Linked DNA regions of Homo sapiens. The protein of the gene in region 6 interacts with the protein of the main gene of each other region in a biochemical or structural test. Each region holds a gene or a part of one and is shown on either strand. Other genes may lie near its edges.

Region 1 (4,211 bases), on a different chromosome or scaffold from region 6:
GCGTGCGCTGGACCTCACTGGGCCTGCCCTGCAGGGGCAGATGTGATCCTGCCATCCCGCCGTCCTTTTGAAACTACACCACCCACTTCAGTAGGATTTGTTTCACTGCAGCCCCCCACCTTCCCCCAAAGCGACACGGTGACACATGCCCCACACTGAGGGCCACTCTCAGGACAAACAGACACCACAGCAGCCCCATCGGTGCCCAGGGAGGCGCAGGACAGGCGGGCTGCTGGAAGGCGCAGAGCTCACCATCACCGGAGGTATGTAATGGAGAGGACACGGTGGGTGTTAGGAAAGCCTCCCCACCACGATTCTTCCACGTCACTCCAACCTGAGGCAGGCTGGCGCCCACGGCTGCTGGAGAAGCTGCTACAGTGAAAAACCCCTCGGCTTCCCACCTCCTCCCCTTCTCTGGCTCTCAGTCGTTCCCCTTGGAGGGGCGAGGGAGGAATCGCCTAGTGCCGGCTGCAAACTCACTCAGGGGGACGTGGGACACAGCAAAGGCTCAGTGCCCTCCCCGTTCCGTGCCTCCAAGCCAGCAGGAGAGACCTCTCAGAGGCGGGTTCCAGGGATGTGCACAGAGGCCGCCTCCAACCCACGGAAAGGCCGTGCAGGTGTCTCACGCAGGGAACAGTTCCAAGTGGGAGACTGTGTGTGTGAGCACCTGTGTGGACATTTCTCTGTCCAGGTACCCATGTGTCACCACAACAACCGAACACACTCTAGCGCAAAGCTTCTGGGCGCGGGCCTGTTTGAGGCAGGGCTGTCCAGCTACAGTAAGGTCTGTGCGGGGTCATCCCCAGCGGAGCCTGGCTTATCCACGTGGGGACCCCCTGGGTCTAGCCTTCCCCCGGCTCCAGGCAGAGGCTCAATAACCGTTCTGTAATGAGCAGAAGCATGTGTGCATGCCTCTACCAGCTGCTCCATCTCAAACCACCCGGCCGCCTCAGTGAACCTTCTTGGCATGGCTGAGGGTCACAGGAGTCCCTGGGCCACAGCCAGAGAAGGTCAGCAAGGAAGGATGAGTGCCCGAGGCCCAGGGGGCCAGCTCTGGGTAGGTAACACAACCTGCTCCAGCCCAGATGAGTGTGTCAGTATGGCTGGGCAGCCTGATGGACTCTCTTTGGCAGGTTTCGAAAACCGCCACGAGCTTAGACAGGCTGTGAGCAGGGGTGCTTTCGCTCGCCCTGAATAATTTAACAGGAATGATTCCAAAAGAAGTGCATGAGCTTGGCCGGGTGTGGTGGCTCACACCTGTCATCCCAGCACTTTAGGAGGCCAAGGTGGGCAGATCACCTGAGGTCCGGAGTTCGAGACCAGCCTGGCCAACATGGTGAAACCCCATCTCTACTAAAAATACAAAAATTGGCCGGGCGCGGTGGCTCACGCCTGTAATCCCAGCACTTTGGGAGGCCGAGGCGGGCGGATCACAAGGTCAGGAGATGGAGACCATCCTGGCTAACACGGTGAAACCCCGTGTCTACTAAAAATACAAAAAATTAGCCGGGCGTGGTGGCGGGCGCCTGTAGTCCCAGCTACTCGGGAGGCTGAGGCAGGAGAATGGCGTGAACCCGGGAGGCGGAGCTTGCAGTGAGCCGAGATTGTGCCACTGCACTCCAGCCTGGGCGACAGAGCGAGACTCCATCTCCAACAACAACAACAACAACAACAACAACAACAACAACAACAACAACAAAATTAGCCGGGCGTGGTGGTGGTGCATGCCGTAATCCCAGCTATTCAGGAGGCTGAGGCAGGAGAATCGTTTGAACCTGGGAGGCAGAGGTTGCAGTGAGCTGAGATCATGCCATTGCACTCCAGCCTGGGCGACAGAGAGAGACTCCATCTCAAAAAAAAAAAAAGAAGCACGTGAGCCTCAGACAAGCTCCTGTCTCCTGCAACATGCACTCTGGCCCCACCATCCTACACTGGCAGTCGCCTATCACCTGTGAAGACGGCGGGCCTTCCCAGGGCTCCTCCTCGCCCGGTGACACACAACGCAATGGCCTGAGGACAGGCCAGGCTGATCCCCAGCCACACAGCAGCAACCCTGGCCCGTGCTCTGCAGCCCCAAGGTGGCCCTGTCCCACTCGCTTTTTGCCCGCTGCTTGGCAGAGGCAACGCATGGTGGAAGAATGACCGAAATTCTGTGTCTGACATTGAAGAGCCTTTGTTCCCGTGCAGAAAACATCCCACCATGCGCCTCCTCCCTTTCGGGTTTCCTGGCCTCACAGGAGGTCTTTTTGAATCAGGAGGGGAGGGACCCCATCTCTGCCACCGGATCACCGGTCCTTCCAAGGGACCACTGGATCGTGACATGGCAGGGTCAGGATGAAAACCAAATCCCAGAAGTGGCGACCTCTGGGTGGAGGAAGGATCCCCAGGTGCAGGCAATTGGGGGTGCTTGTCTGAGCAGACTTTAAGAGCCATAATTAAAGCAACCACAAGTTACTCTTTTTATTGTTATTTTTTTGAGACAGGGTCTCACTCTGTTGCCTGGGCTAGAGTGCAGTGGTACAATCCTGGCTGCAGCATCTGCGGCTCAAGCCATCTTCCCACCTCAGCCTCCTGAGGAGCTGGGACCATAGGTATGCACCACCATGCCTGGCTAATTTTTTTATTTTTTGTAGAGATGGGGCCTCACTATGTTACCCAGGCTGCTCTCAAACTCCTAGGCTCAAGCGATCCTCCTACCTTGGCCTCTCAAAGTGTTGAGATTACAGGTGTGAGCCACCACACCCGGCCAAATTTATTTTATTTATTTATTTATATTTGAGACTGAGTTTCGTTCTTGTTGCCCAGGCTGGAGAGCAATGGCATGATCTCGGCTCACTGCAACCTCCGCCTCCCAGGTTCAAGCGATTCTCCTGCCTGAGCCTCCTGAGTAGCTGGGATTACAGGCGCCTGCCACCACGCCCGGCTAATTTTTGTATTTTTAGTAGATACGGGGTTTCACCATGTTGGCCAGGCTGGTCTCCAACTCCTGACCTCAGGTGATCCACCTGCGTTGGCCTCCCAAAGTGCTGGGATTACAGGTGTGAGCCACCGCGCCTGGCCAAAATTATTTTTTATGACACACACCTATTAAGATAATCAACTTCTTTCCACCAATTGAATAAATCACCAGACACAGTGGGCCCCAGGCCCCGGGGCTCTCAAACTCTGCGGCAGGCACTCAACGCCACCCGTGCTCTCGGCACTCCTCAGACCGACAATGATCGGCTGCCCGTGGCCAGGCCCTCCTCAGGAAGGCCTCCCACCACCCAGGCACCCACAGACCCGCGGTACGCTGAGTGCACCGTGGTCACCTCTGGAGACCTTGCAACCCGGCAATGCCACGTAGGTTTTGGCCTGGGACAGATTCCTTGATTGTCTTTTCACTTCATTGCCCCAAAAACTCCCCGACAAGGTCGCAGGTGCTAAAGGACTTGGAGGGACCCTGTATTTAACAAGGCGTGCGTGGTTGCTATGGTCAATGAGATGACTGCTGGAGAGCTGGACAATAATCTGATCAGACAAAAGAACAGATGTGGCCTCAAATATTGCAAGAATATATCAGGAGCCTCTGAGGAACACCAGCCAGCCTCCTGCTGCGTAGACAAACTACAACTTCCCAGACAGCTGAGGTGAAAGTGGTGAGTTTAAGAGGAAACCTTTGGGAGGCCAAAGTAGGAGGATCGCTTGAGGGCAGGAGGTCAAGACTATCCTGGGTATCACAGCGAGACTCCTGTCTCTACAAAAAGTAAAAAATTAGCTGGGTGTGGTGGTGCACCTATAGTCCTAGCTACTCAGGAGGCTGAGGTGGGAGGATCGCTTGAGCCCAGGAGGCTGCAGTGAGCTGTGGTTGCACCACTGCACTCCAGCCTGGGTGACAGAGCAAGACCCTGTCTCAGAGAACAAAAGAGGAAGGCTTCAAACATCCAGGACACGGGCTCCGACTGCCTCCTGCAGAGCGAGCCCGCCCCACGCATGTCCCCTGCACCACTCCTTCTCCGCCTACCTCGGCTGGCCTTCTCAGCGCTCAGACCCACGGCTCTTCCTGAACCTGTGGCCCCCCTCACCTGCCGTGATGGTGTCCACCTCCTTGGCTGCCAGCTCCTCCACGTCCGACCTCTTCCTCAGCTCAAACCTCCGGGATAAACCTTCTCGGGGTTTCCATAATTCCTGGATCAAGAGGGGCTTCTCACTGTCCCCAAACACCCGAAAGC
Region 2 (4,211 bases), about 16 Mb from region 6:
AGAGTCTACATATTTGGGGATTTTTATCTATTTGCTGATATTTTCTGCCCCACTACACTCTCACACCACATCTTTTCTGTTGAATATATGCTTTTCTCTGGTTTCTTTCTGTTCTTTACTCCCTCTTTTATTTATTTGCTTCAACGCCTTTCTGTATATCCCTAACCGTTTCTTTCTTTTCTTTCTTTTTTTTTGAAACAGTCTCCCTCTGTCACCCAGGCTGGAGTACAGTGGCTCAATCTCAGCTCACTGCAACCTCTGCCTCCTGGGTTCAAGTGATTCTCCTGCCTCAGCTTCCTGAGTACCTGGGATTACAGGTGCCTGCCACCACGCCTGGCTAATTTTTGTACTTTTAGTAGAGACTGGGTTTTACCATGTTGGCCAGGCTGGTCTCGAACTCCTGACCTCAAGTGATCCGCCCGCTTCGGCCTCCCAAAGTGCTGGGATTACAGGTGTGAGCCACTGCGCTTGGCCTCTAACTGTTTCTATTAACTATCAAGCAGTCTTTTTTTTTTTTTTTTCCTCCTTCAACAAATGCTGCTTCAGGGAAAATTATTTCTCTACTTGTCTTAGGATATCAGAAATTACTGCGATGGACTCAAAGTTGCTAAGGAATACTTTGAAGTCCTTCCTACACATAGTACTGGTAGTCTGCACATCACATATATTGACATGGTGTCTGAGAGCTTTTTAGAAGTTCAGAGTCTCAGCCTTTACCCAGATAGATGTGCTGACTCAGAATCTGCATTAACATAACATCCCTAGGTGATTTGCATGCACATTACAGTGTGAGAAGTGTCACCCTGGGTGATCTCCTTTCTGTTTGTGGCTTATTCACTTTGACTGTTAAGCTTTGAGCTGGAATGGTGCTGTGTAAATTCCTAATGTCAGTTTATGTTCATCAGTGACTTCACTGGCTGTTTACTAATAGTAATTTCTACAAAGTAATTGTTTTAGATCTTAGAAATGATCCTAGTCATCTTAACACTCAAGAGCTTCATGGTAGTTGGACTTTGAGGAAGAAGTAGAAGGCAATCATAGAAGCTGTGTGAGTGGGTGCTTCTCAGGTGGTAAGGGCCAAGGTGATAGAGACAGCGTCATATATGTGTTAGACACACACTTTGGTCAATTCTGATCGTGATTTGTTCTTTACCCTTTCTGTCCTCCCCATCCCTTTTTGGGCACGTGCAGGCTGAACTTCCTGTACTGATGCTGGGAAGATCATCTGACCTTCGGGCTGGAGAGTTTGTGGTGGCTTTGGGCAGCCCATTTTCTCTGCAGAACACAGCTACTGCAGGAATTGTCAGCACCAAACAGCGAGGGGGCAAAGAACTGGGGATGAAGGATTCAGATATGGACTACGTCCAGATTGATGCCACAATTAATGTAAGTCACTTAGGACAGAGGTGCCCAACCCATGGGCTGTGGACCAGTACAGGTCCATGGCCTGTTAGGAACTGGGCCGCACAGCAGGCTGTGAGCCATGGGCGAGTGAGAATGACTGCCCGAGTTCCACCTCCTGTCAGATCAGTGGCGGCATTAAATTCTCATAGGAGTGCAAACCCTATTGTGAACTGCGCATGCAAGGGATCTGGATTGCATGTTCCTTATAGAATCTAACTCATGCCCGATGATCTGAGGTGGAGCAGTTTCATCCCAAACCACCCCTCCGTCTGTGGAAAAATTGTCTTCCACAAAGCCGGTCCCTGTGCCAAAAAGTTTGGGGATTGCTGACTTAGGAGGCCTTTCCTCAGATCACACAATATTGGCAGTTCAGTGAGAAGAATATGTCAGAGTGAACTTTGGGGATGTCCAGGTTTGGTTGAATCACTGTGGGAGGAATGGAATGCCACTTTGTTAGAGTCTGTCTCGTTCGCTGTGATCGCTGGCATCCATGCTATTAGGTGGTCTGTTGTAGAGGTCACCCCTCCTGTAAGAAGGTGGTGGTCCCTTGGCCAGGCACGGTGGCTCATGCCTGTAATCCCAGCACTTTGGGAGGCCGAAGGGGGTGGATCATGAGGTCAGGCATTCGAGACCAGTCTGGCCAACATGATGAAACCCTGTCTCTACTAAAAATACAAAAATTAGCTGGGCATGGTGGCGGGTGCCTGTAATCCCAGCTACTCAGCAGGCTGAGGCAGGAGAATCACTTGAACCGGGAGGCAGAGGTTGCAGTGAGTCGAGATTGCGCCATTGCATTCCAGCCTGGGCAACAGAGTAAGACTCCGTCTCAAAAAAAAAAAAAAAAAATGAAGGTGGTGGTCCCACTGCTATAGTTCTTTACCTACACTGACTTTGGTATTGGTGATGATAGGGGCACAATTTTGCCGGCCTGGGGGGAATAGGAGCTTGGTGGGCTGCTTTTGGTAAACTGTTTTGGGAGCTATGTGTAAAGGACAAGGGGGAATGTATTCATTAGCTTCACTGATGTCTTTTTCAAATTCTGCTTTTAGTATGGGAATTCTGGTGGTCCTCTGGTGAACTTGGTAAGTGATCACTTTCCTTGTTGCTTCATGTTTCTTCTTAACTTTCAAAGACTTTATTAATTCCAGGCCAGGGGTGGTGGCTCATGCCTGTAATCCCAGCACATTTGGGATGACTGCTTGGGGCCAGGAGTTTGAGACTAGCCTGGGCAAGACAGCAAGACACCATATCTACAAAAACAAAAACAAAAAAGGACTTTACATATTCCATGATGCAGACTTGGGTGCCACTCTTGTGTAGAGAGCTGTGGAATGGTGCTTTTCTGTTCTTGGACCTTAAGTCAATAGTTAGAAAAAATTCAAGATTGTTATCCTGGTGTGTGATCTCATCCCACTGAGAACACTAGGGTTCTAGCTCCGGCTTCCTTTGAAATTTCTCTCTTCCCCGTGCTTTCTGTTTTCATTGGCTAGTTACCCAAAGCCCTGGATTTTATTTATTTATTTATTTATTTAATAGAGACGATGTCTCACTATGTTGCCCAGGCTGGTCTCAAACTCCTGAGTTCAAGTGATCCTCCTGCCTTGGCCTCCCAAAGTGTTAGGATTACAGGCATGAGCCACCATGCTGTGCCAAAAGCCCTGGATATTAAACCCAGGTTTATGCCAAATGACCAGCTTTGCTATGAAATGTAGGTCCTTGAAGACTCCTTGATGCTGCATATGAAGAACTATCTCTCATTTAAAAATGCTAATTACATAATGTCATCTGTCCAGGTTTTTAGTCTTGACCTCTTGACCTGCTTATAGATGAGAGAAAAGCCACAACCAGCACTCCTGACTTCAAGTGAGCTGCCTGCCTTGGCCTCTCAAATACATTGCCGTGTCATGTATTCTTAAATTGTATTCCGTGTCTCTAGTGGAAATGTCAGGGTTTCTAGTTGCCCAAATACATGTGAAAACCTAAGAGAGTGCAATGCTGTTTGACACATAGCATGTGATCATCCTTTCTGAGTCCCTTTGCACTGATTGCTTTTGGTTCCTGTTTAAATATTACATTTGCTTTTAGAATGAATTTTATGCAAAATGATTGTTTTTTTTTTTTTACTCATAGCATTGCATGTCATTTTTCTTTGTTTTGTTCCTGCCTTCTCCATTAGACAATGAGTTTACTAGAGCAGGGATGAAATGCAGAATTTCAGGCCATACCCCCGACCTACTGAATTACAATCTGTAGTTTAACACAATCAGAAATCTCTTTTCTGGCTGGGTACGGTGGCTCACTCCTGTAATCCCAGCACTTTGGGAGTCTGAGGTGGGTGGATCACCTGAGGTCAGGAGTTCAAAACCAGCCTGGCCAACATGGTGAAACCCCATCTCTACCTAACATACAAAAAAAAAAAAAAATTAACTGGGCATGGTGGCATGCGCCTGTAATCCCAGCTACTTGGGAGGCTGAGGCAGGAGAATCGCTTGAACCCGGGAGGCAGAGGTTGCAATGAGCCAAGGTTGCACCAATGCACTCCAGCCTGGGCAACACAGTGAGACTCCGTCTCAAAAAGAAAAGAAAAAAAAAAAGAAATCTCTTTTTTATCCTTTCCCATTACCTAAAAGGCTAAAGGAAGATGAGGTACATAAAGAGGAAAATATTTTCTACCTCATACCTTTAGCTTAGCAGAGCTTTGTTCCCTAAGGTCAATTTTGCTAATTCTCAGTGCAGTGTTACTGACAATCCCACAGCTTTTTACCTTTTCCATGTTTATTTTTACTTTTAAATAATAAAAAGGCAAA
Region 3 (4,211 bases), on a different chromosome or scaffold from region 6:
CGTCTCTACTAAAAATACAAAAATTAGCCAGGTGTGGTAACGCAGACCTGTAATCCCAGCTACTCGAATCAGGAGAATCACTTGAACCCAGGAGTCAGAGGTTGCAGTGAGCCGAGATCGCACTCTAGCCTGGGTGACAGAGTGAGACTCTGTCTAAAAAAAAGAAAAAAGAATATCTGCATTCAGTTTTTATTGTATGTTATAATAGTAATGCCACCTTATCTGGCTAGCATTTTATGGAAATCTAGTGTTTCACACAAGCAGATTTCTTAAGTAACTAAATGTGTGTATACTCAAGACTGAAATCCTAGATAATTAGATTTATTTATATTGGAATAGAATCTGAGAAAAATAAATCTGAGAGAGTCTCTTACATGTATATCTTTATTGCCATCTACTTAAATTCGGATCACTTGCTCAAGTTGGGTGGCTACTGGAGTAATATTCAAGTAAGCACAGTATTAATGTACTGTACATACTTTAATATAGTAGTTTGTGATGTCTCCTAACTTTTTATATTATTGATTTTTTATCTTTTCCCAGGGCCTTTTAAATTCCTTTTGTTTAGTTAGGACTATACATTGTATTTTTCACTGGTTGAAGAACTTGAGTACCTAAGTAATTTGGTAACCTCCCATAATCCACTGGTACTGTTCTTAAGATTCAGGTAATTCATGAAGTTAGATTGAAAAACATTTTTTTATTAAAATAGAATTTTAAGACAAATGGTGGTAGAGTGGGTGTTTACACTGTTTAATACTAACAGTTAAATGATAGGTCCACATATATTTGCTTACTTGAGTTGCCTGAAATTCAGTTAGAACATTCTTCAAGAAATAAACATTTTTTAATACCATTGGTTAAATCAATTATTTTTAAAGGCTTTTTGTAGCAGTCGAACCCTTTCTGTGAAGAACATATTCAGAAATCTTGTTTCTCCAGTTCATAAAACAAGCAAAAAGTAGAGCTGCTTTGGCAAAATTTACTTTGCTGTCAAGAAAATTCACCAATGTTAAGTTCTCAGGTTGGTCTTTCAGTCAGTGTGAAACAATGCCTTTTGCTAATCGGGTATATTGGTTAAACATGTCAGGGACTGATGGCAGCTATCACTTAGCAGCCACAATTTGGTCATTTAAAAATAAGCTGATGTCAAGTTAGCAGAAGAAAAGCACCATCGCCACCCCCTTTTTTAAAGGCTAAAACAGTATATGGGTTTTGCCTACTCAGAAATAACAGCGGGAAGATCACTTCAGCATTTGTCTCTTAGGAGAGATGTGCCCTACCAAACATGGCTGAGGTGCAGTCTAAAAGAAACAGACTTACAGTGACACCTCTGCAGATGGGTGACTAATCCAACGACAAGTTGCACATACTTTTAAAGAAAGAACTGTGGAGTATACTTCAAAAGTCCTTGGTGTATTTTCTTGAACCTCACCTGTTCAGCAGTAATGCCTCTGAAAGGACTTTCCTCCAGAACAAGTCCATTTAATTTAGAATCTTTATATTACTCACCCATATACCTTTATTTGTTGTGTTCCTTATGTTAGTACAGTTTCTGCGTCCTTTAATGACAGGAACCTGTCCATAAAGATAAATCATATTCAGTCTCAATTTTTTTTCTTCTATCCTCAGGGAAATTCAGGGCTTGGTTTCAGCATTGCAGGAGGTACGGACAACCCACACATTGGAGATGACTCAAGTATTTTCATTACCAAAATTATCACAGGGGGAGCAGCCGCCCAAGATGGAAGATTGCGGTATGTTTTGCGCTTTTTATTGTGATGCTGAATCCACTTTGTGTATTTTTCTTGAAGCAGACTGGATAAGGGATAAATACAAATAACAAACACGATCATGATAACTAGCATAGGGTAGATGCTTTAACAACATTCAAGTCAATGAATGAGATAATTATGCTCTAAGCATTGTGTTCCTGTTTTCATTTAGACTCCAGTTTTATCTTAGATATTATAACATTTTGAATAACAAATTTGGTTGATGGTTTAAATCTTTGTGAGCATATTTATAGAAATCATGAGTTTCCCTTTGTGTTTTCAGATACACTCACAGAATATTTTCCATTTCCTCTCTGGCTGGGAAACATGTGTATAAACTTATTTAAGTACACTCACAGAATATTTTCCATTTCCTCTCTGGCTGGGAAACATGTATATAAACTTATTTAAGATACGGAGGATAGAGGATCACACATCCATGTTGAATCCCACACCACAAAGACTATATGCAAACTTTAAATAATATATTTTCTTATTGACTAGATGAAAATAACATTTGTCTCTGTTTAAATTTAGTGTTCCATTTTGGAAGATATATTTTGCAAACTTTGATTTTTTGAGGGTCATAAATTATGTCATTTTTCCTATTTCCTTGTTTGTTGTTCAAATACCCTGAAGTTTTAGGACTAAAGAGTTTATGTAGTCTGTTAAAAACAGCATCTTATTTTAAGGACGTTGATGCCTTACGCAGTTTTTGAATTTCTAAGCTTTATAATTCTCACTGGGTATGACAGGTGGTATATTAATGAAATCAAATAGATATAAAAATTAATCATTTGACCATTCATGTAAATGTAGACATTTACTTCCTGATTCTGTTAGATATAGAAGCTTGTCAGGACCAGTTTTAATATTTTAATTATGTTTTGTTTACCCTCTCTACCCAATTTGAGATGACCATCTTTTTTTCCTGGTGGAATACCATGCAATCAAAGAGACCAGAACTAGGGAAAAGGCTAAGACTAGGAACAAATCAGACTTTTAAAAAACATAACACCATGGCAAATTATAAGTTCTTTACCTACGAAACCTTTGAATTAAGTGACCTAATCTTTATATAAATTTCAAAAAATAACTTAATTGTTTTATGTCTAATATATAGGTTGGAATAGGCACTCAGAAAATTATTTTTACTTTATCTCAGTTTTCACACTATCTCTGTGACCTTAAACTCGTGATGTGAGCCTCAGTTTTCTTATCTTTGAATCACAGCTCTGTCACTTATTATCTGGGTGGCCTTAGGAAAGTTATTTACATTCTTTGTGCCTCAGTTTCTCCATCTGTGAAATAGGGATTAAAATATATATTAAGCTTACAGGTGTCATGAGGGTTAAAATACCAAGAAAGTGCCTGGCATGTGGTTAGTGCTAAATAAATGTTTGCTATTTTTATAAAGTGTGTCTTAATGCCTACACAGAATAAGCATGCAGGAAGTATGCAAATGGTAGCTGTAATTATTATTTAACATTTTTATATAATCTATTATTTTCACTATTTCTTTTGTTCCTTTTGCTGGCCCTTGGGAAATGTTTGTATTTGTTTATATTAGTTTTTGATATACTTTCTTCATTTATGTTTTCTGGAATTACTCCAGAATTATTTATAATTCTCTTTACCTTAAAAAAGAAGTAACAAAAAATTGGTAAAGTGGAAAATTTATATTTAAATTATATTTAATTTTTATTTTTAATATTTAATTGTTTTCTCAGGGTCAATGACTGTATATTACGAGTAAATGAAGTAGATGTTCGTGATGTAACACATAGCAAAGCAGTTGAAGCGTTGAAAGAAGCAGGGTCTATTGTACGCTTGTATGTAAAAAGAAGGAAACCAGTGTCAGAAAAAATAATGGAAATAAAGCTCATTAAAGGTCCTAAAGGTATGTGGTAAGTCAAACTAAGATAAATCTTTAAGAAATCTCTGAGTTAAATATACCTATGAACTTTATCTGTGACATACATTCCAAGTACAGTATTAGTAATATTCTACAGAACTTGAGTGGATTTTAATTTCTCCGTTATTTCTACTGATTTTTGTCTTACGTAGCATTTTAGAATATTTACATTTCTACCAAGATTGCAGCATTTGAAAAGTTCCTTTTTTTGCGGGGTTTTTTTGTTTGTTTTTTTGAGGCAGGGTTTTGCCCTGTCACCCTGGCTGGAGTCCAGTGGTGCAGTCATGGCTTACTGCAGCCTCAGCCTCCTGAGCTCAAGCGATCCTCCCACCTCACCCTCCCAAGTAGCTTGGACTGCATGCACACACCACCACACTGGGCTGATTTTTTTTATTTTTTGTAGAGACGGAGGCCTCCCTGCATTGCCTAGGCTGGTCTCAAACTCCTGGGCTCAAGCAGTTCTCCCACCTCAGCCCCGCAGAGTGCTGGTATTACAAGTGTGAGCCACTGCACCTGGCCCA
Region 4 (4,211 bases), on a different chromosome or scaffold from region 6:
ATTTTTGATATTAAAAGTAATTCATTTTCCTGATATGTTTTGCCCTTTGGCTTAATGAACATGGAATTGGAGAACACAATATGCAATTTATTTTACAGTGCAAGGCTAAATAAATGTTCTCCTTCACTTTTCTACAAGGACCAACTGTCATTTACCCTTAGGGTAGGAGCACTAAGTATGCATTTCTTGACATTCTCATTCGAGTCATTAGAGGCAGCATCAATCCAAGGACTCCGACTGCATTAATTGGGTAGAAGCAGTTGGGATATTTTGTACTCAAAACTCTCTTCTCACCCTGTTTGTTTCCCAGCATGCAGGCTTTCTGAGCTGATCAAGGTTAACAAGGCAGCTTTCAGAGAGATTAGTGCTTGAACACATATCAAGCCTTTCATACTACCAGCTAAGCAACCGGTTGTCCCCACTCCCAGCATCAAGTCTTGCTCGAAGTAACCAGATTTAGGCAGTCAGATCTTCAAAGGGCGCACGTAACCACATAGAAGGGTAGAACTACAGAGTGCTGTTATTCATTCTTTTGCATTTTACATGTTAGCGTTTCTCTGTATACTAACTGAGTGTGCCCCTGACCATGGGTATTGATTATTTTTTCTCTGTACAGACGGTCTGTCTGATAAGAGCTCTCACTCTGGCCAAGGAGCTCTGAATTGTGAGTCTGCCCCTCAGGGGAATTCGGAGCTAGAGGACATGGAAAATAAAGCCAGGAAAGTCAAAAAAACGAAAGAGAAGGAGAAGAAAAAGGAAAAGGGCAAATTGAAAGTCAAGGAGAAAAAGCGCAAAGAGGAGAATGAAGATCCAGAAAGGAAAATAAAGAAGAAGGGCTTCGGCGCCATGCTGAGGTATGGGCCTGCTTTGAAGGCAAAGTTGGTTCTCATTTTGTCTCTCCTGGTAAAATCACTCCTTTGTCTGTACTCAGAAAAAAGCGCACGCTTTTCCTCGTCTTCAGCCAAATGCATACGGCTCTCAATTCTGTGCTCGTTCTCTTTCTGCAGAGGCAGAGGAGCTTTTTGGGGAAAGTTACAGTGATGACAGGACACTGTCTTAAGTTTGTTGTCAAAGAAAGGTCAACACTATGCCAGGCACGGTGGCTCATGCCTGTAATCTCAGTACTTTGGGAGGCTGGGAGGATTGCTTGAGCCCAAGAGTTCAAGACCAGCCTGGGCAAGGTAGGGAGACCCTATTCTTTTTTTCTTTTTTCTTTTCTTTTTTTTTTTTTTTTTTTTTTTGAGACAGTCGCGCTTTGTCGCCCAGGCTGGAGTGCAGTGGCGTGATCTCGGCTCACTGCAACCTCCGCCTCCTGGGTTCAAGCGATTCTTCTGCCTTAGCCTCCCTAGTAGCTGAGACTATAGGCATGCACCACAACGCCCAGCTCATTTTTGTATTTTTAGTAGAGTGGAGTTTCGCCATGTGGGCCAGGAGTCTTGAACTCCTGACCTCAAGTGATCTGCCTTGTCTGCCTTGGCCTCCCAAAGTGCTGGGGTTTCAGGCAGGAGACCCTATTTCTAAGAAAAAAAAAATTAGCCAGGCACAGTGGTGCATACCTGTAATCCCAAGTACTCAGGAGGCTGAGGCCAGAGCATGGCTTGATCCCAGTAGTTCAAGGCTGCAGTGAGCTATGATTACACCATAAAAGAAAGGCCAATACTTAGTAGAGGCATGGACAATGCCTGCAGTCCTTTGTACCAAAGTGTTATGAAAATAAATACTTCCTCTGACACCACAGGGAAAGTGGGAAGTGGGGAAGCCCTATGTGTTACCTCTGGAATACCTCTTTTGAAGCAGGGGAGTCAGGGTAGATGAACCTCATCCCTCTGTGACTCTAGGTGTGCAGTGGCCGGGCCTCTGGGCACATCACTTGTCACCTCCAGAGGCACTGTGGTACAGGGGAGATGTCACTGGGTCTGGGCTCTGATGCCCAAGTCTGGATCCATGACTCCCCACACATGAGCAATGGGGCTTCACACACATTGCTTAGCTTCCCTGAGCCTTACTTTCCTTACTTTTAAAATGAGGCCAGCATACTTGCTCTACTGACCCAGCACAGTTGTGAGATATGATTTCATATGCTATACATTCATTGACTAGACGGGGCTCAACATGGCACAGTCAGAAAACAGCTTTGTTTCTTCTCTCCCCTTCAAGTATAAACTGTTGAGGCTGCCTCTTCCACACCCTGACATCTCAGCTTTCTGGCTGATAGCTTTCTGGTCACTTTTGGGTAAAAAAAAAAGCAACTTGTTTGTCGGGGGCTAAAATATGCAATCCAATATAAATGAAAGCTTTCTTCCTTTCTGCCTGTTGGACCTGAACCACAAGGAGCATCCTATGGTATGGTGGGAGGCAGGATTCCACCTTCTCCTATTTCTCAGTCTTTGGAACCAGGAGACAAAGACAAGATTCAATAGGATAGGATTTTACTTAACTGGCATTATCTGGTATAATCTGGCCATCAAGGAATCTTTGTGGCTACTTTTGTGGATTTTTTAGAGTGCTCCTTACTATACCAGTCACTAATGTAGGTGATTTTCCCACTGACCTATTTCCCTAAGCCTCTGACCTCAGACATATACCCCTGAGTCTCCTTACCCCGGCTGGTAGACTTCTTGGACAGTGCCAGTTTGAGACAGCTCTAGCTTAACTTACAGCCACAGCATCTACCTGGCTTATTAGAGTTCCTGATCTCCCACCCTCCAAATGATGCAAGTACAGCTTGTTCCCACTGTACCGCTCCTCCTCACCCCACCATAGAGATGTTCCAACCAGCCTTGCATCTTCAGACTTCTCCAGCACATCCCACACCAGCTCTGGGCCTCCTCACTCCAGAAGCACACATCAGACTCTCCCAAGAATGCTGTCATGCATGGGGAAGGGAGGAGGCAGTCAATTTTTGCAAGTCACAAAATAAACAGGTAGGAAGTGGGGTGACAATCTCCTATTATACAATTACCTCCAAATTCCCTAAGGGGTTTACTTGTAGCCCCCTCACTTATTTTGTTGGGTGTTACAGGCAGAAGTACCCCTTTCTATTACTGTCTTTACTCCTATAATTTCTTCTCAAATCAATTGATCACTATACTTCTGTGGGCTGAAGGTGAATGATGGGAGATGATGGTTTAGGGGCCAGTTTGGCCACCTCTTATGAAACCCTTAGGAGATACCTCATTTAAGAATGCTGCGTGTATTTATTACCAATTGTTCTCATTTTGTGATCATCAGCTGAAATTTCTACATAGAAAAGAAAGTTCCATCATTCCATATATAAGTGACATTTAGGGAATACAAATAATCCTCTTAGCAGTGAGCCTTCCCGTTACATTTCCAGTGCTCATGAAATGCTAAGCAAGGTTCCTCATGCTCAAAATCTTGGGAGCGATGTTGCCCCTGGATGTGTTATGACAAGACTTGCTGCGGTCCTGCTATCACCTGGGGTGAGGTTACCCCAGCAGGCCTGATGTCATAATAGCTATCTGAATATTAAAAAACAAAATTTTGGCCAGGCATAGTGGCCCAAGCCTGTAATCCCAGCACTTTGGGAGGCCAAGACGGGCGGATCACCTGAGGTCAGGAGTTCGAGACCAGCTTGACTAACATGGAGAAACCCCTTCTCTACTAAAAATACAAAATTAGCCGGGCGTGGTGGTGCATGCCTATAATCCCAGCTACTCGGGAGGCTGAGACAGGAGAATCGCTTGAACCTGGGAGGCAGAGGTTGTGGTGAGCCAAGATTGCACCATTGTACTCCCGCCTGGGCAACAAGAGCAAAACTCCATCTCAAAAAAAAAAAAAAATTCAGCTAGGCATAGTGGCTCAGGCATGTAATCCCAGCACTTTGAGAGGCTGAGATGGGCAAATCACTTGAGCCCAGGAGTTATAAGACAAGCCTGAACAACATGGCAAAAACCCATTTCCATAAAAAAAGGAAAAAAACACAAATTAGCTGGGCATGGTGGCATGTGCCTATAGTCCCAGCTACTCAGGAGGCTGAAGTGGGAGGATTGACTTAGCCTGGGAGGTAGAGGATACAGTGAGCCATGATCCCTTCACTGGACTCCAGCCTGGGCAACAGAGTAAGACCCTATCTCAAAAAATTAAAATTAAAAAGAACAAAATTTCAGCAAATTGAGTTCTAACAATTGAATTGGATTTTATTAGTGATTCATAAATTGGTCCACATCCCATCTACAGAATAGAAGGGC
Region 5 (4,211 bases), on a different chromosome or scaffold from region 6:
ATCTCTTTGGATATCAAAAAGAAATGGTCAGAATCACATTAACACAGTCCATATTCTGCTGATTTGTAATTGATAGAATATTTTTCAGGAAACACCCCTGGGAGAAAAAAATTCATCTTTTCTGACTGTTTCAGAGCTGCATAAAGAGGGGCAGCAAGCTAATTTTGAGGTGATAGGTACTCTATGGCTACCTTAACTACTATGAACTGTGAAATCTCATTCATATCCTACAAAATCTGACTTGGTCAGTGCCAATTATAAAATGCCATTATGTGAAATAATGAATTCAAGCTAGCCTTATTGTTAAAGAATGTAATAATAGTGTTCCTCAATCTGAGTAAAGGTTGAAGGTTTCTCTAGTAAATTGTCTTAGTATATATTGATCTGGAAATTGAAATTAGCTTGAGATTTTCTTGCAGGGACCTTGACAGCATACATTTTTAACTTATAATTTGTTCACCTCTGAATTTGAACAGAAAGCCCTTGAAGATATTCACATGTACTGAAAACCTTTTTATTGATTTCTATCCAAGTTCTATGGAATTTTGATTTTCTTTTTTACCAAATTAGTATCACAAGTTGTTTTTCACCACTAGATCTTAATAGGTTTTAATTTTTACTAAGGTACTTTAAAATAGATTTCACTTTTCAAGACTAATTGACTACCCACTCACTCCTCTACCTACGCAACCACCTACTCACTCACCCACTGTGTACTTGGCCTTACTTGATGGCATAAATGAAAGTTCTCGTTTAATTTAGACCCTTCAGTGTGTTTTTTTCCCCCTTGGTTGAGAAAGATAACTTACAGAGTTAATGAGGTTTTGAAATATAAGATCATTATTTGGAATATGTTTTCTTTCCAGTGGTTGCAGCCTTTACCCTTGTTAAAGCTGTCTTTGAGGGAACATGTGCCCAATTTGTTACAAATATTGGAAGGATGCCGTTTCCCTTTTTAAAAATTAAAACTCTTTTCCCTGTGTTTCTCATTTTTGAAAATCTTGCAGAAACTCCTTTGAGTGACTGTTGGTTCTATAACATTTTCTATGTAACTATCTTTTAAATGACTGAAACAAATCTCCAATAATAAGACCTTATCATAGTCCCAAAACTTCTTGTCTTAGCAAATGTAGCGATTACTGGAAAGGAAGGGCGTTATGCAAATGAGGTTAATGACTAATTTTTATGTCATGATCATTTACTGTATCTTTTACAATTATAAGTAAGTGTACAACCGGTAATACTACATGAAGGAAATTTAAGACAATTCATCGAAATTAAAACATAGAAAAATGCCTACTTTCTTGGTACAGCAGTGTGTATGAAAGGGAATAACAAAATACATACCATTTTTACCTTGTGTTAGGTGAATACTTGCCCTGTTTAGTAGCCTGTAGCTTCAGACTTTCCTGCTCTGGTAGGACATACACTAAAATTGGAATGATGCAGCATGACCCTTGCTTAAGGATGACGTGCAACTTTGTGAGGCATGCTGTATTTGCTTACTCCTCGAGAGCACTTTTATTTAATTACAGTTACTTATTTATGGATCTCTCTAGTTCACTAATAAGGAGCTTCCTGAGGGCAGGGAATGTTTCTTACACATCTTTCTCCATTAACACAGTGCGTGCAATGTAACTGCCTTTCATTAGCTGTGGAATGAATTGAGTAGTTTTAATAAAATCTCATTAAAAGGCAAAAAAGCATGTTTGTCAACCTCAGAGCAATTATTGTCCGAAGAGCCTGCATTAGTTTAAAGTAGTGGTTCTCCACCTGGCTGCATATTAGAATCATCCGGGGAGCTTTTAAAAAAGATCAACGCCAGAGCCCTGTGTCAAAGCAGTGAAGTCCGAGTTTCTGGGACTGGGTCCTGGTCACTGACATTTTTTTAAAGCTCTCTGTGTGATTCTAATATGCAGCTATAATGAGGAATCATTGGCTTAAAACTTAGATTATGTATGTAATATTTTGGGACTGGCTTTTCAGAGGCTTACAATTCTTACAAAGTAGAATAAATTCTTTTTGGAAGGTATTGAAGCTAAATGGCTAAAACATGGATTTTATCTTCTATGCACTTGTGTTTCTCAGCCTTATTGTGTAAAAATTTAGTTTTAGCTTGTGTTTGGCTTTGATTTCTTGGGCCTTTTAAGATCCACATTGATTTATGACACTCATCTAATGCTAACATGGCGATTGTCTGACGTTTGGAACAACACAGAACAAGGATTGCTTCAATAACAGTTGATGATGGTTTTCCACTATAATGGCTTGATTTAATATGAAGAAATTTATCAGTTTAGTATGGATTGTGTTTGTACATACACTCTATTAAAAGAGTATGGTTAAGTTGCTTGTATGCTTTAAATTACATACTTGTGATTCCAGTAATGCTGTTAGCTGGAGAATTGAGTTAATGCAGCCTTTATGTAAATACTGGATTAATAATACGTAAAGTATATAATTCAGCATACAGAAAAATTCAGCTTTACTAATTTGTACTAATTACTATGACTTTCACATGTATTGATTCATGCAGTGATTTGGGTTTCTAGTACCATAGGGAGAATTTCGCATTGTGTTGAAAAAATGTTTCCCGGAAATTTTAACTAGACTTTGTAGGTAAACTAGTTTTTAATGTTAGGAAAAGATCAAGTGTTTGCCTGAAGGAACCGAGAATTTTCCAGAAATGAGTAGATATTCCAGAAATACCAGTGATCGTGAAAGCAGTGCATGATCACAGTGACAGCCAAGTAACAAGGTAAAAGAAGTGATCAGCAGCTAAATTGTTGGTGGCCCAGAAAGAATGCAAGCCATGGGAGTTAAGCTGTACTTCTACAGAGGAAAATCCTTTTGAACTCAGGGTGTGGATGCTACAGATAGCAGGCCTCAATGGGAGTGGGGAAGCAATATTGATTCCTGATGATCCTAGGATCATTTGGAGGGAGAACAGAGCTACTCCGTTGCTTTTCTGCATGTATACAACCTTCTCTAGTCTCTTCCTGTCTGCTTTTTACAGATTGCTTTAGGGTGTGTTGTTTGAAGTTGTCTTCATAAATACTTCCTGTGGACTCCCTTAATTTTTATGTCCGTAACACGCTTCTATGTACTTGACATACGCAGTTCAGCTCTCTCCATTTTTTCCTTGTATCTGCAACAGTTTCACCTGATGAACTACGTCTCAAGTGTCCCTAAATTGTGTACCTGGATATTTCCTTTAAACTGAAAATTCTGTCTCCAGCTGTAGTTCTACTCAATAAATTGAAGGAGCAGATATACCTTGCTTCTTGAGATTATTCTTGAATTATTACATTTTCTTAAACGTTTTCACATTTTAAATGTGGTAGGAGCACTGCATTTAAAGGAACTTTGACATAAGGTTGTTTAAAAAACTTCTATAACTTAAAGCTTACTTTATAAAGGGATTGACATTTATCCCTCTAATGTTAGGCATTTTGGATGTATTATTTAATCATACCCATTTTACAGAGAACACTGAGATTCAGAGGGGGTGATCAGTAATTCGCCTAAGATCACACAGATTCCAACGCGGTTCCATGGTTTTAAAGTCTGTTCATTTCATGCTGCATTCTGCTGCTAATTCAAGTTGTGAAAATACTGTGTTGGATTTTCTTAAAGACACGTCTTCATTTTCAGAGTTTCTATACTGCAAATTTTAGTTGTTTGACTTTCTGGTTAAATTTCTTATTTCTTCAGTAGAGGTTCCATATACTATTCATTCTTTCATCTGTTTCTTTTTTATTTTTGTCTTTCTCTTTAATGAAACATCAGCATTTGTTACCAAACTAACTGGTAAATCTAGCAATGGAAATATAGACTCTTGGCCATCTGTCCAAAATATAATTTGTTTTGGAACTTTCTCTACTTCTTTTACTCTCCAAATTTTTTCTTCCATTTCCCTTGCCCCAACAGACAGGATAGTTGATTAATTACCCCTAACTTGCCAAACCAGAAGTAATAAGGTTTCAGAGGTAGATGTTTGTTGGAAGTGGGGTGGAGTGGTTTCCAAAGGATAGTTATTCCTTTATCCTGTGATAAAAATACGGAGATTGTTCTCTCTGATTCTGAAAACCGTGTAGTGAGCTGCAGCCGCTGAGTCTGTGAGCTTCTAGCTGTTTGCCAGCACTGTACACCTTAAATAATCAAGAGACTGAGTTAACTATTGCAGAGCAGGTACCGGACCCCAGCCAACA
Region 6 (2,873 bases):
AAGGCCAGGAGTTTGAAACCAAACTGGGCAACATAGCAAGACCCCATCTCTACAAAAAATTTAAAAATTAGCCAGGTATGGTGGCACACGCCTGTAGTCCCAGCTACTCAGGAGGCTGAGATGGGAGGATCACTTGAGCCCAGGAGTTTGGGGCTGCAGTGAGCCATGACGGCACTACTGCGCTCCTGCCTGAGCAACAGAGTGAAACTCTATTAAAAATATTAAAAATTTTTTTTAAAAGTTGTTCCTCTCACATAAAGACTGTAAGTCCGTCCCACATTGCCTGGATTTTTAACAGAGCAGTGATTCTCAGTGTGGTCCTGGGTCCCACAGCCAGCAGCATCCGCATCACTGGGGAATTCGTGAGAAATGCACATTCTCAGGCCTGTTGGCCTCCTGGAGAGGAGGCTCTGGGGTGGGGCCCAGCCATCGGCATTTAACAAACCCTCCAAGGGACCCGACACACACACCTTTGAGAACCAGGATGGAAAACATGCTTTTTCAACACACATTCCCTATCTCTGCACAGCAGGGGGACTGGATATTCTCCCACTCTGCAGATGAAAACACTAAAGCCCAGAGAGGTTAAGGGATTTGCCTAAAGTCAATCACCTGCCCCTCCCACACTACACACTTCAGAAATTTACCTGAGGGGGGGTTTCAGCAACCTTCCAGAGAATGTGGTTGCATTATAAATGCCACTTAATGAGAAAAATGAGCCCACCTCGGCTGGGCATGGTGGCTCACGCTGTAATCCCAGCACTTTGGGAGGCCGAGGCAGGCGGATCACCTAAGGTCAAGAGTTTGAGACCAGCCTGGCCAACATGGGGAAAACGCGTCTCTACTAAAAATACAAAAATTAGCTGGGAGTGGTGGCGGGAGCCTGTAGCCCCAACAACTCGGGAGGCTGAGACACGAGAATAGCGTGAACCTGGGAGGCAGAGCTTGCAGTGAGCTGAAATTGCACCACTGCACTCCTGCCTGGGCAACAGAATGAGACTCCGTCTCAAAAAAAAAAAAAAAAAAAAAAGAAAAGAAAGAAAGAAAAGAAAAGAAAAATAAGAAAAATGAGCCCACATCGGGAAAAATGCAGCCTGCTCCAAAGGGGGAAGAAGGGGAAAGAGCAAGATTTTCCAAGAGGATGTGCTGTACCTCCGGGCAGATCTCCAGAGGCTTTGAAATGATCAAAGAGAAATCAAAAGGGATGGGAAAAGGAGGAGAGGGAGAGGAGATGCAGCCGGAAGCAGCTAGCCTAGGCTCCTAAGAAGCCTGTAACTAATGCCCCCAAAGCTGTGCAACACTGCTTCCCCTAGAGTCCCCGACTGGGTACCCAGTGCTAGCCCCTGATGGGCCCGGCCCTTCCTGAAAGCATCCAGTGCCCTGTCCCCCTCCCCACTCCCCTGTGAAGGCTCAGGTCCCCCACCCCCCTCCACACTCACGCGATGCTGGTACTGCACTTCTCACAAGTGTGGAGCTTGGGAGGGGTGGCCAGGGCCCTGGAGGCGGGCAGGGAGGACTGGGGGCTCAGTGAGCTGGGCAAGAAGGCTGGCGTGCCACCTGGGGGCAGGGCAGACAGACATGTGGTGAGAGCCCACCAACCACAGCATCCTCCCAAAGATGCTCTGAGGAGGTGGTCTTGGAAAGCACCCTTATAAGAGAAACCCTAAAGTCACGCTGACAGTGGCACCAGGTAAGGAGGAAGGTGATCTTGCCAGATCCATGGCTGAGGCTGGGCAAGGGCATGAAGGAGGCAGGTACAAGGCCGAGTTTGCCCATCCAAGGCCACCTGGGGCCATCTGTGCTCAGTGTCAGGTGAAGCAGGTGCTCCCTCTCTAATGACCTGGTAATAACAGTGTGATTAGATAATAACTGGAGATGGCAACAGGAGCGCAATGCCTCGGTGTGGCTTTCAAAGTGCTTTTCCATGCCTTGTCACATCTGAGCTCTCAAGCCACACGAAGATGAAGCCCAGGGCTACGGGGCAGCTGTCGCCCGTCTGCAGCTAAGGACGCTGAGGCCTCCTTGGCAAAGTCACTGCTCTCTCCCTGTGCTGCCTCCTGGGACCTTCTGAGGCCTCAGGGTCAAAACAGACCAGATTTGCTCCAAACCTTCTCACCCCACCCCCTGTGCCTCTGCAAATGCCCCTTGGAGCTAAACATCAGCGTTAGAACCAGCCACCTGCCAATCTCCAGGTGTGCCCTGTCCATATGGCCTCTTACATTTGCTCCCAAAATGGAAATCTCACCTTCAACCTCACAGTTGTTCCTGGAGGCCAGTTTCCAGCCTGCATCTCTGTACTCCCCACTCCCCTGCTCCCTTTCCATTGCCACCCCAATGGGACTCAACTGAGGTCCAGGAGCCCACACCAGCCACTGGGAAGGAGAGCCTTGGAGACAGCCAGGCGGGCCAGTGCCCAGGGCCAGGGGCACCATTTCCTGGGAAACCAGCTTCTCTCCATTTTAAAATTCAAAGTCATAGATGAATTATGAAGCCTCTCTGGCCACTCTCCTACCTGTCCTGTCATCTCCCTCCCCTTCTCCCCACTGTTCTAGAGGGCATTGGTGCTGAGCACCTTAAGGACAGGGGCTGTGGGAGTAGTAACTCCCACAGCAGCGCTCACTTCCATGGGAGCTGGCCAGGCCCATCTGCCCCAATGAACGGAGCTCCCCAAGGGCAGGAGTGGGGTCATGGCCACCTATCCCCAAACTCTGCACACATCTGGTCCCTCAGATGGGCACAGTCAGTGTCTGTCACATGAATAACGGAACTCTGGCAAGCCTCCGTATGTCTTGCTCGCCTGGCATCAGTATTTAATGGCTTTCCTGGGTTAGGGCACTCCTCAGCCTGATTCCCTTCCCGAGGGCCCTCACTGC
Region 7 (4,809 bases), on a different chromosome or scaffold from region 6:
AGATGCATCAGCCCTCCCCATGTTGGTGCCGCTGTCACTTCCTACTGGGATCCTTCCCCTATCCAGCCACATCCAGGCTGTGGGACTACACGGTGCCCTGTTCCCCTGGGCAGGAGAAGAGGTGGTACCTGCAATGCACCTTCACAGCCAGGCAAGCATTCTGGATTTACCCTGTGTAAAGAAGGGTGGTACCCTCTTTCAGGGGTGTGATACAGTGCATTGATGGAGCAGCTGGTGCTGCTGGGAGGCCAGCCTGGAAGAGGCAGCAGTGGCTCAAGTTTGCGTGCAGGAGCCAGAGTGGGACCCACGGGCTCTTGTGGGTGTGGTTTAGAACTAGATGGTGCTTTGGGGACAAGCCATCCAAAAACCCCAGGCCCACATCCACCCTGATTTGATATCCCACTTCCTGACAGATCAGAGGCTGTGTCTTTAAGCAGTGGAGGTCCAGGAGCAGAGCCTGGGGCTGGTTCACAGCTAAACCCCTCCTTAGGGCAGCCCAGAGTAGGGCCTCAGCTGGCAAGTCCACAAGCCCTGCTGGGGCCCTGCTTGTTGGCCTGACCCCTCCCTCACCAGGCAGCCAGCCAAGGTGGTTCCTGCTTCACCCACTCAGTCATCAGCCTCAGGCTGCCCAAAATGCCTCTGACACCAGATTTATATCTTCTGGGCGGCTTCTTTAAATCCAGCCCTTCACCCGCCCCCTAGAGAAGCAGTGAAACCCCTTGGCTAGTCCAGCTGGAAGAGCTAGACCGCAGGAGCCGCGCCGTCTTCCTAACCTCGCCTCGGCCTTCGCTCCACAGTGGAGAGTGGGAGCCTAGCTGTGCTTGATGCTGAATGCCTGTTTTGAGAGTGTGAGTGGGATCATCTACAGTAAATACTTGCAAAGCATGGCACTGTGGCTCTGGGGAGCTGGTACGCCTGTGCTGTAACCATGGTACTCAGTCCTTCCAAAGTGTTTATTAATCAAGCACCTGTCATGTGCCATTGAGCCCACGATGGGGAATGAGGACAGTCCCTGCCCCCATGAAGCTTGTGTCCTGTTGGGAGGACAGACAGGTGGCCCAGCAGTTGCAGCATGGTGTGTGCACACGTTTGGCTGGTGGAACCATGTTTCTACCACTCATGGTCAAAAAAAGCCCACCAAAGTCCTGGGAGTTCACATCTGTGTGATGATACGGCAACATTGTTTGTAATGGAAAGACTGGACACCCCCAGTGCCCATCAGTGGGGGAGTCATTAAATAAACTATGGTATGTGCACATAATGGGTGGTATGCAGCCCTTTGGAAAAATGTAGGTTTTCCAGGTCCTGGATATAGCAGCGTAAGATGGGAAATCACAGAATACCCATGTTGTGCCTGAGATGGCAGGTGGGGTACCCGTGGTACCCGGGAGGGTGGCAGGTGGGGCACCCATGTTCTACCTGGGGTGGCAGGTGAGCCCATAACCATTGTAGAGGCCAACATCCTCAGAGGCCTGAGTGTGGGGAGGTAGGCTTTGACTCCCTAGGGAGAGAGGGACACTTAGGAAACAGACGGGCCCTGGAAGTGGGACATGAAGAGTGCCCTGGCCATCCAGTGTAGGCTGAGATGCTAGGGGCACAGAAAGAAGAGATCTGCTGATGCCAGCCTTCCAACCATTTCCCAGCTTGGCCAAGAGCCAGCTCTGGTATTCGTGAAGGAACAGATCCTGGGTGAAGCTAGAGGGAAGGCCGCAGAGGCAAAAGGAGAGAGGAGCTAGGCCAGGGGTCAGCGACTGACCCTCGCGGCCAGTGTACAGGGGTTGCAACTGGGAGCCTAGGGGGCCCCAAGGCATCTCCAGGCCCAATCTACCTCTGGGCTTTTCTCAAGCTCTCCCTAGGATTACTGCGGTTTCCTCCTGGCGCCTCTCGTCTTGGACAGCCATGCCCCCCTCCATGCTGCACTAATGGCTCAGCCTGGGGCCCTAGGGACCTCTCCTACCCCCCAGACTGCTCTGTCGGCCCCCTTTCCCCCCTACTGCTGAAACCCAATCCTCTGCAGCAGCGCCGGCTCAGCACCGCCGGCTCAGCACCGCTCCGCAGCCCCTGCCTGCCACGGTCAGCTACGTCCCACCTGGTCTGCTGCGGAGTCCCCAGCCCAGTGCCTAGCCCAGTGGAGCCACCGCCTGTTCCTCGGGAAGGAACAGTGGGACCTGACCGGCCAGATCACCTCCTCCAATCCTGCCAGGCTAGTGCCTCCCTGCCTTCCAACCTTGGCTGTCTCCCACCCTCTCTTCTCCTCTCCTTGCCTGGCCTCCTGAATCCTATCTTAGCCTCCTTAGCCCCCTGACTGACTCTCTCTCGCTTCTTCCAAGCCTCTGTAGCTGGTTCCGCTCCTGGGTTCTGGCCATGAAGCCCACCTCAGGCCCAGAGGAGGCCCGGCGGCCAGCCTCGGACATCCGCGTGTTCGCCAGCAACTGCTCGATGCACGGGCTGGGCCACGTCTTCGGGCCAGGCAGCCTGAGCCTGCGCCGGGGGATGTGGGCAGCGGCCGTGGTCCTGTCAGTGGCCACCTTCCTCTACCAGGTGGCTGAGAGGGTGCGCTACTACAGGGAGTTCCACCACCAGACTGCCCTGGATGAGCGAGAAAGCCACCGGCTCATCTTCCCGGCTGTCACCCTGTGCAACATCAACCCACTGCGCCGCTCGCGCCTAACGCCCAACGACCTGCACTGGGCTGGGTCTGCGCTGCTGGGCCTGGATCCCGCAGAGCACGCCGCCTTCCTGCGCGCCCTGGGCCGGCCCCCTGCACCGCCCGGCTTCATGCCCAGTCCCACCTTTGACATGGCGCAACTCTATGCCCGTGCTGGGCACTCCCTGGATGACATGCTGCTGGACTGTCGCTTCCGTGGCCAACCTTGTGGGCCTGAGAACTTCACCACGGTGAGCTGACCTCCCTACCTATCCTGCCAGGGACCCAGAGAGCCGACCAGTCCCTGCCCAGCACCCACAATTCCCTAGCCAGCACAGGCTCCCCCAAAGCCAGGGGACCTCTTCCTTCCTACCAGCCATGGACTCCCCACCCCCCAGTGCCACTCCGTGCAGCCCAGGAAGCTGTCCTCCTTGGGGCTTTCTCTGTCTCCCAGCCCGAGGGGAGCATGTGAGGCCACACTGACCCCGGCTGGCCCTAGGCCTGAGGTCTGGCCCAGGGAGGCCCTGCTCCTGGGGCTGGGGGTCCTCCATGGTGGGACCATTCTGGGGCAGAAGACCCCTATCTCTGCCAGGAGGTGGGGGGGGCTTGCTTTCCCTCTGCCTTTTCAACATACTGCCAGCCCCGGAGGACAGCCACAGGGGCCCATTTCCTTTTCCTGCAGTTCCCAGAGAAACACAGAAAAACCTGTAGGCTGTGCCCTGGGCTTTGGTGGGGATTGGCGGGGTGGAGGAGCTGAGTTGATGGGCTCCCAAGAGCGTCCTGCAACATGTGCCCACTGGAGCGTGGGGCTGGGGGCATTGAGATGCGGGCTTCAGTATTCAAAGAAGAGACGCAAACATACCATGAGGTGGGGAGAGGTCCCATGACCATGTGCCTGCCTGGGGGAGATGGCCATCACCCTGTCTGCCCGCCCCAGATCTTCACCCGGATGGGAAAGTGCTACACATTTAACTCTGGCGCTGATGGGGCAGAGCTGCTCACCACTACTAGGGGTGGCATGGGCAATGGGCTGGACATCATGCTGGACGTGCAGCAGGAGGAATATCTACCTGTGTGGAGGGACAATGGTAGGGAGCACACAAATGAGGCTGGGGGAGGGCACGGATGGAGTGCAAAAGGCTAGGGGAAGGAGAGGAGGAGAGGAGGTGTCAGGGTGTTCCCCCAGAACCTGTGAAAGGGGCTGGGCTGGCTCATCCCAGTCCTGGGGAGAGGGGCTGCAGTGAGAGGTCTTGTCTGGTTGGGCAGGAGACCTGACCACACAGGTCAGGCCTCACAGGTCCCTCCCCGACAGAGGAGACCCCGTTTGAGGTGGGGATCCGAGTGCAGATCCACAGCCAGGAGGAGCCGCCCATCATCGATCAGCTGGGCTTGGGGGTGTCCCCGGGCTACCAGACCTTTGTTTCTTGCCAGCAGCAGCAGGTACCCTTCCGTGTGCCTCCACACCTACTACTTCAAGCCCACACCACCTCAGACCCTAAACCCTCAGCTCCTCAGACCTGTCTAGGGGCCTCTCCCCAGCTGGCCTCTCACGCTCTCCGGGAAGCCTCCTTAACCCTGTCCCCCCACAGCTGAGCTTCCTGCCACCGCCCTGGGGCGATTGCAGTTCAGCATCTCTGAACCCCAACTATGAGCCAGAGCCCTCTGATCCCCTAGGCTCCCCCAGCCCCAGCCCCAGCCCTCCCTATACCCTTATGGGGTGTCGCCTGGCCTGCGAAACCCGCTACGTGGCTCGGAAGTGCGGCTGCCGAATGGTGTACATGCCAGGTGAGGGGCTGGGGTTTTCGTCCCATGGCGGGCAGGGCCCAGGGAGCTGAGGCTGCTTCTAAAGCCATCTCCCCGGTACCCGCAGGCGACGTGCCAGTGTGCAGCCCCCAGCAGTACAAGAACTGTGCCCACCCGGCCATAGGTAAGGGCGAGCCTCCCCCACCTCCCGTCCGCCCCGCTCCGCCCGCGGGCGTCTGACGCGGCCCGGTGGCCCGCAGATGCCATGCTTCGCAAGGACTCGTGCGCCTGCCCCAACCCGTGCGCCAGCACGCGCTACGCCAAGGAGCTCTCCATGGTGCGGATCCCGAGCCGCGCCGCCGCGCGCTTCCTGGCCCGGAAGCTCAACCGCAGCGAGGCCTACATCGCGTGAGCTGCGC

What was found.
Region 1: the proteins of PDLIM2 (region 6) and RADIL interact in a test that uses a peptide from one of them, tested with the Homo sapiens proteins (one large-scale study listed by IntAct).
Region 2: the proteins of PDLIM2 (region 6) and HTRA4 interact in a test that uses a peptide from one of them, tested with the Homo sapiens proteins (one large-scale study listed by IntAct).
Region 3: the proteins of PDLIM2 (region 6) and DLG1 interact in a test that uses a peptide from one of them, tested with the Homo sapiens proteins (one large-scale study listed by IntAct).
Region 4: the proteins of PDLIM2 (region 6) and PARD3B interact in a test that uses a peptide from one of them, tested with the Homo sapiens proteins (one large-scale study listed by IntAct).
Region 5: the proteins of PDLIM2 (region 6) and CASK interact in a test that uses a peptide from one of them, tested with the Homo sapiens proteins (one large-scale study listed by IntAct).
Region 7: the proteins of PDLIM2 (region 6) and ASIC3 interact in a test that uses a peptide from one of them, tested with the Homo sapiens proteins (one large-scale study listed by IntAct).

What each region holds. Positions count from the first base shown.
Region 1 is NC_000007.14:4,873,541-4,877,751, forward strand, and holds part of RADIL (ras-associating and dilute domain-containing protein), read right to left. Parts: coding exon 4,065-4,211; intron 1-4,064. UniProt on the Homo sapiens protein: Downstream effector of Rap required for cell adhesion and migration of neural crest precursors during development.
Region 2 is NC_000008.11:38,976,762-38,980,972, forward strand, and holds part of HTRA4 (serine protease HTRA4 precursor), read left to right. Parts: intron 1-1,191; coding exon 1,192-1,386; intron 1,387-2,453; coding exon 2,454-2,486; intron 2,487-3,197; coding exon of another isoform or gene 3,198-3,230; exon of another isoform or gene 3,231-3,724; intron 3,725-4,211. UniProt on the Homo sapiens protein: Serine protease.
Region 3 is NC_000003.12:197,137,686-197,141,896, reverse strand, and holds part of DLG1 (disks large homolog 1), read left to right. Parts: intron 1-1,632; coding exon 1,633-1,757; intron 1,758-3,505; coding exon 3,506-3,675; intron 3,676-4,211. UniProt on the Homo sapiens protein: Essential multidomain scaffolding protein required for normal development. Recruits channels, receptors and signaling molecules to discrete plasma membrane domains in polarized cells.
Region 4 is NC_000002.12:205,300,848-205,305,058, forward strand, and holds part of PARD3B (partitioning defective 3 homolog B), read left to right. Parts: intron 1-616; coding exon 617-854; intron 855-4,211. UniProt on the Homo sapiens protein: Putative adapter protein involved in asymmetrical cell division and cell polarization processes. May play a role in the formation of epithelial tight junctions.
Region 5 is NC_000023.11:41,916,545-41,920,755, reverse strand, and holds part of CASK (peripheral plasma membrane protein CASK), read left to right. Parts: intron 1-4,211. UniProt on the Homo sapiens protein: Multidomain scaffolding Mg(2+)-independent protein kinase that catalyzes the phosphotransfer from ATP to proteins such as NRXN1, and plays a role in synaptic transmembrane protein anchoring and ion channel trafficking.
Region 6 is NC_000008.11:22,590,235-22,593,107, reverse strand, and holds part of PDLIM2 (PDZ and LIM domain protein 2), read right to left. Parts: intron 1,558-2,873; coding exon 1,440-1,557; intron 1-1,439. UniProt on the Homo sapiens protein: Probable adapter protein located at the actin cytoskeleton that promotes cell attachment. Necessary for the migratory capacity of epithelial cells. Overexpression enhances cell adhesion to collagen and fibronectin and suppresses anchorage independent growth.
Region 7 is NC_000007.14:151,046,522-151,051,330, forward strand, and holds the start of ASIC3 (acid-sensing ion channel 3), read left to right. Parts: upstream 1-2,009; 5' UTR 2,010-2,364; coding exon 2,365-2,898; intron 2,899-3,584; coding exon 3,585-3,735; intron 3,736-3,959; coding exon 3,960-4,087; intron 4,088-4,236; coding exon 4,237-4,432; intron 4,433-4,517; coding exon 4,518-4,574; intron 4,575-4,650; coding exon 4,651-4,798; intron 4,799-4,809. UniProt on the Homo sapiens protein: Forms pH-gated heterotrimeric sodium channels that act as postsynaptic excitatory receptors in the nervous system. Upon extracellular acidification, these channels generate a biphasic current with a fast inactivating and a slow sustained phase.